Homo sapiens: one gene and its partner. The protein of the gene in region 1 purifies or fractionates together with the protein of each later gene. This does not show direct contact. Each region holds a gene or a part of one and is shown in the gene's direction. Other genes may lie near its edges.

Region 1 (3,268 bases):
CCCCAGGGTGCGCCTCCCATGGGCACCCACCCAGTTTGCAGGGCTGGGCCTGAGACCGCCACTTACTGGTGGGGAAGCTGAGGCCCAGGGAGTGAGAAAGCAGGGTGCAGCTCTAGATTTGTGAACTGGCTCAGCCGCATGCTGGCACAGTGGCCTTGGGAAGGCCCCTCAGGGTCCCTGTGGCCCCTCGGGCTGAGGGGGATCCCTGGCTGGGCCGGGTGGCGAGGCTGAGGGGTGTGGGGCGTGCCCGTCCCTCCAAGCCAGGCCCTTCTCCCCCAGATGACCTACTCCCTGACTCGGTTCGCCATCTACGAGACTGTGCGGGACCGTGTGGCCAAGGGCAGCCAGGGGCCTCTCCCCTTCCACGAGAAGGTGTTGCTGGGCTCCGTCAGCGGTGAGCTGCCGGGCGGGAGGGGGAGGGGCGCGGGGTGGTCAGGTCGGCCGAGGACGCCGTGTGTCAGCACGGCTCATCTCTGGGGTTTGTGTCACCGCAGGTTTAGCTGGAGGCTTCGTGGGGACGCCCGCAGACTTGGTCAACGTCAGGTTGGTGTTCCCCCACCCCACCTGCAAGGCCAGGGGCTTTCTTGTCCCCAGACATGCCAGGGCCTGCCAGGGCTGCTTGCAGGGTGGGGTCAGCCTGGAATAAGCCACTGAGACCCTGGTGTCCTGGGCATAGGAGGGTGGGTGTCCCTGAGCCCCGGCGTGCCCTGTCCTGTGGGCCCCGCTGACCAGCGTGAGCTCCCCTGTGCTGCCAGGGCTGCCCATGCCCCTCGGCCCGCCCGCCCCTCCCGCCACCTGCTTCTGTTTCAGGATGCAGAACGACGTGAAGCTGCCCCAGGGTCAGCGGCGCAAGTGAGTCATGGGCGGCCTTCTCGGGGTGGTTGAGGTGCAGGAGGCTCGGGCGGGAGCGGACCCCTGGCTGCTCTGCCGTGACCCAGCTGAGGCTCCAGCAGGCCGAGGTGCCTGCACGGTCCATGGAGGGTCCTGACGGCTGTTCTGGACTCGGGGGTGTCACTCTGCGCCCCCAGGACCTTTGGGTTCTTCCTGTGGGGAGAGCCTTGTTGGATTGGGGGCTGGGCCTGTTTGCACCCCAGGGTGGTGAGTGCGGAGGCGAACGCCCCAGGCATGGAGAGAGCGCATGCAACAGAAACGCCCGAAGGAGGCGCTGCCTCCCTGCCCAGCTCAGGGCAGCTGTGCCCTCCTGCCACGGCCTGGGGTCTTTCCAGGGCCCGGGGTCCGCTCCAACTGCAGTGTGAGCCACTTCCCCCGCCCCTTCCAAGGACCCCTGGGGAGTTCTGGCTTCTAGCTGTGCACACAGACTGTGTTCCCCCAGGACCCCGGGGGCTGGCGGGCAGGAGGCCTGCATGCTAGGAGCGGTGCCCAGCCAGGGACTCTGTTGGAAACGATGGAACCTCCTCCCTGAGGGCCGGGCGGGGCGGGCGAGGTGGCTGTGGGACGTCAGGACCAGCTTCATGTTCCCAGGGAGAGATCTTCAGGCCCATGAGGCCTCTGCTTCCTCGAGAACCCCCGGCCTGCCTCGGGGCCTGGGAGGACCCTCTGTGGGAGCCGGTGGTCAGGGGGAGTCTCATGTGGTCATTCTGTGTCCCCGGCAGCTACGCCCATGCGCTGGATGGCCTGTACCGCGTAGCTCGTGAAGGTGAGGGGCAGGTGCTGTGCACAGGCAGGGTTCTGGGGGGCAGGCAGGGTGGGCAGCGCTGTAGAAGACTGGGCGCTGAGGGATTTGGGCCAGGTGCCTGGCCTCACCCCTTGCCTCACCCCTTGCCTCACCCCTTCCTTGTGCAGAGGGTCTCAGGAGACTGTTCTCGGGTGCAACCATGGCATCCAGCCGAGGGGCCTTAGTCACTGTGGGCCAGGTAGGCCTCCTGCGTGGGGTGGGTGTGGGCAGTGCCTGTGACCACTGACCTCCATCTTCAGAGGGGCCATAGAACAAGGCACTGGGCGCCAAAACCCTCCTGGGGAGCCACCAGCTGTGACCTTGTGGGGCAGGGTGGGGGGCACGGGTGGGTCAGGGCTGCAGCCTGTGAAGGACCTCGGGCAGGTGCCTCCCCTGTCTGGGCCTCACGGACGGACAGACGGAGCAGGTGCTTGGCCATTGCCAGGTGGTGTCGCCTGGGGCCCTGTGTGCTTTCCCCAAGCTGGGGTCCCCCCTACAGCCCTGACCGCCCTTGTGCCCCTGCAGCTGTCCTGCTACGACCAGGCCAAGCAGCTGGTCCTTAGCACCGGGTACCTCTCTGACAACATCTTCACTCACTTTGTCGCCAGCTTTATTGCAGTAAGTGGCCGGCATGGCTAGGGTGGGCGTCCCTGGGCCGGCCTTGGGCGCTGAGGGCACCCAGGATGGGGCGAGGGCTGGGGGAGGCGGGGGCCTTGGGCATCTGGCAGTGCCCCCTGGGGCTCATAAGTGGGGTGCCAGGGCTTTGGGAGCTCATGGGTCAGCCTGGTGCCCCCGCCAGCATGTTCCTGGCCCGCCCTAGGAGTCAGGTGGAGGTTCTGGCACGTGGGTGGGATTCGGCGATGGTGCCTGGCGTACCTGACAGGCCGCTGGTGACGAGCCCCCTCCTCAGGGTGGATGTGCCACGTTCCTGTGCCAGCCCCTGGATGTGCTGAAGACTCGCCTGATGAACTCCAAGGGGGAGTATCAGGTGAGTGGGGCCCTGCCTGTGCAGTTGGGCTGCACAGCCCAGCGAGTCCCCTCACCTCTCCGGGGGGTGGACACTCGCACTGGGGACCCGGGGAAGGGTGTCCCTCCCTTCTAGTTGCCTGTCTCTGCACAGCACTTGCCTTGGGAGAGGGTTGTGCCTTTGAATGCCTTTGCCTTGTTTTTGTTTTTAGAGAAGACTTCTTGGCCCGGCGCAGTGGCTCATGCCTGTAACCCCAGCACTTTGGGAGCCTGAGGCAGGCAGACTGCTTGAGTCTAGGAGTTCAAGACCAGCCTGGGCAACATACTGAAACCCTGTCTCTACCAAAATTACAAAAATTAGGGGCCAGGTGCGGTGGCTCATGCCTATCATCCCAGCACTTTGGGAGGTCGAGGCAAGCAGATCACCTGAGGTCAGGAGTTCAAGACCAGCCTGGCCAACATGGTGAAACCCCCTCTCTACTAAAAATACAAAAAATTGGCTGGGTGTGGTGGCGTGCGCCTGTAATCCCAGCTACTCGGGAGGCTGAGGCAGGAGAATCGCTTGAACCTGGGAGGCGGAGGTTGCAGTGAGCCGAGATCACACCATTGCACCCCAGCCTGGGCCAC
Region 2 (2,925 bases), on another chromosome or scaffold:
CTCAGGTAGCTGGGACTACAGGCATGTACCACCATGCCCAGCTAATTTTTGTATTTTTAGTAGAGATGAGATTTTACCATGTTGGCCAGGCTGGTCTTGAACTCCTGACCTCAGGTGATCTGCCCGCCTCGGCCTCCCAAAGTGCTGGGATTACAGGTGTGAGCCACTGCTCCCGGCCTAAAATAAAGAATTTAAAATGCAAGTCCAAGCAACCAAGATTTGTTAGCATACATGACTGGAAGTCATGCACCACTTAATTAAGTGCCTCATGAAGTGGGAAGTGCAGATTATGGGTATGAAACAGCACGAGTGCTAGAATTGTTTAAAACAAAAGTCAGTGGTTATAACAAGGAGTATTTCTGTCTGTTTATAAAGATGTGTTGGTTACGAGTTTTGTTTTTTGTTTTTCGTTTTTTTCGAGATGGAGTTTAGCTCTTGTTGCTCAGGCTGGAGTGCAATGGCACGATCTCGGCTCACTACAATCTCCGGCTCCTGAGTTCAAGTGATTCTCCTGCCTCAGTCTTCGGAGTAGCTGGAATTACTGGCACACAACACCACAGCCTGCTAATTTTTGTATTTTAAGTAGAGATGGGGTTTCACCATGTTGGCCAGGCTGGTCTCAAACTCCTGACCTCAGGTGATCTGCCCGCTTCAGCCTCCCAAAGTGCTGGGATTACATTTTTTTTTTAAGAATTTATTTAATACCCTAAAATTTTATTTAAAACATTCCATAATAAAAAATGTAAAGATATATCAAATGCTCAAGGATAAAAATAAATATTAACTGCAATTTGGGATGGTTGAATCATTTTTTTCTTTAAAAACTCAGATTAGCCAGGTGCATCCCTCATACCTGTAATCCCAGCACTTTAGGAGGCCAAGGCGGGCAGATCACTTGAGGTCAGGAGTTCAAGACCAGCCTGGCCAACATGCTGAAACCCTGTCTCTACTAAAAATACAAAAATTAGCTAGGCGTGGTGGCGCACACCTGTAATTCCAGCTGCTTGGGTGGCTGAGGCAGAAGAATTACTTGAAGCCAGGAGGCAGAGATTGCAGTGAGCCAAGATAGTGCCACCGCACTCCAGCCTGGGCAACAGAGTAAGACTCCATCTCAAAAACAAACAAACAAACAAAAATCCTAAACAAACCAAAAAAACCCCTCAGATTAATCATTCATATTGTAAAACTCCAGTGTTTCTTGTTTCCGTTTTTTTGTCTTTGTTTTTGTTTTTGAGACAGAGTCTTGCTCTTTTGCCCAGGCTGGAATGCAGTGGTACAATCACAGCTCACTGCAGCCTCCATCTCCTGGGCTCAAGTGATCCTCCCGCTTCAGCCTCCTGAGTAGCTGCGACTACAGGTGCACACTAACACACCTGGCATATATATACATATATATACACACACACATATATACACACATATGTACACACATATGTACACATATGTACACATATATGTGCACATATACATGCATATATGTACACATATATGCACATATATACATATATACACACATATATACATATATACACATATATACACATATATACATATATACACATATATACACATATATATATATATATTTTTTTTTTTGTAGAGATGGCATTTTGTCATATTGTCCAGGCTGGTTTAAACTCCTGGGGTCAAGCAATCTGCCCTCCTTGGCTTCCCAAAGTGCTGGGATTACAGGCATGAGCCATCCCACCCAGCCCAGCTCCAATATTTCATAGGCCTCAAAGGTAATGGTGAAGAGTCTCAGACTGTTACAACATTTCTACCTTTTATGCCTGTGCAGCAACTCAAAACCATCACATTCTTGTATCTGAGCTGAGATTTTTTAATAATTCTGTGTTGTAAAAGTGGTATCAGAAACAGTCCAAATGATCAGGTCTTCAACAAATAGTATATGCAGCATATTTATTGGATAAGTTATTTCAAAGGATAGAATTTTTGGAGAAAAAAAGTATTACATGGATCACTGGTAGGGAAGAGATCCTACAACCCTGGCCCCTGTTTGGCATTATGAAGTGTCTCCTAGATAACAGAATAAATGGAGAGGGGATGCTGGCTTTGCTTCCACTGCAAATCCTCCTGAGAGTTAGCTGTTTGTGGACAAATGCAAGAAAACAAGAAGACAAGTTTTAATATTTGATTTAATAAGTGAAATTTGCAAACCTAAGTGACCTGCTTTTGTTTTCCAGCATACAGTGTACGACAGCATTTGGTGTAATATGAAGAGTAATTAACTTTACCCAAGGCGTTTGGCTCAGAGGGCTACAGACTATGGCCAGAACTCATCTGTTGATTGCTAGAAACCACTTTTCTTTCTTGTGTTGTCTTTTTATGTGGAAACTGCTAGACAACTGTTGAAACCTCAAATTCATTTCCATTTCAATAAACTAACTGCAAATCACTAAAATTCTTTCTTGTTCTTCTATAAAAAAAGAAGCTTTCCAGGCTGCACAGTCAGGCTGTAGGTTGCAGACAGAGACAAGCCTCGAAGGAGTTGAGTGAGGGTCCGAGGTTTCTGGGAAATACTTTATTTCTCATCATCTCGAGCCCAAGAGTTGGACTTCTCTCTCTCTGCAGAACAAAGTATTAGCTCTTGTTGCTTAGCTAATTTTTCTCTGAAGAGTGTTTCACTCTCCACATCCCACTACCTCCCTAAGCCACTTTCTCTGGGGACCTCACACTCTTGGAGTCATGCTCAGAAGCCCTGATTTTACCCCAGTCCCATCCATGCTGAGCCCTGCTGGTTATGCCAGGCTCCTCTGGGTTGTCTTTGGGCCTCCCCAACGTGTGCAGGGCCCAGACCAGAGCCAGCCAGGGAGGGGAGGCCTGCAAAGCAAGGTGGATCCTGTCTGGATTTTAAATTTTGAGTTTTATTTGTCGTTCATGGATGTTGGCATTAATTTTGAACTT

Evidence for each region. The genes of interacting proteins can lie anywhere in the genome.
Region 2: the proteins of SLC25A10 (region 1) and SCGB2A1 purify together in Homo sapiens (affinity purification with mass spectrometry; 2 studies listed by BioGRID and IntAct, with this or other methods). This does not show direct contact.

What each region holds. Positions count from the first base shown.
Region 1 is NC_000017.11:81,715,199-81,718,466, forward strand, and holds part of SLC25A10 (mitochondrial dicarboxylate carrier), read left to right. Parts: intron 1-279; coding exon 280-394; intron 395-494; coding exon 495-543; intron 544-810; coding exon 811-852; intron 853-1,613; coding exon 1,614-1,657; intron 1,658-1,803; coding exon 1,804-1,874; intron 1,875-2,200; coding exon 2,201-2,293; intron 2,294-2,558; coding exon of another isoform or gene 2,559-2,585; coding exon 2,586-2,663; intron 2,664-2,853; coding exon of another isoform or gene 2,854-2,970; exon of another isoform or gene 2,971-3,146; intron 3,147-3,268. UniProt on the Homo sapiens protein: Catalyzes the electroneutral exchange or flux of physiologically important metabolites such as dicarboxylates (malonate, malate, succinate), inorganic sulfur-containing anions, and phosphate, across mitochondrial inner membrane.
Region 2 is NC_000011.10:62,211,522-62,214,446, forward strand, and holds the end of SCGB2A1 (mammaglobin-B precursor), read left to right. Parts: intron 1-2,204; coding exon 2,205-2,249; 3' UTR 2,250-2,422; downstream 2,423-2,925. UniProt on the Homo sapiens protein: May bind androgens and other steroids, may also bind estramustine, a chemotherapeutic agent used for prostate cancer. May be under transcriptional regulation of steroid hormones.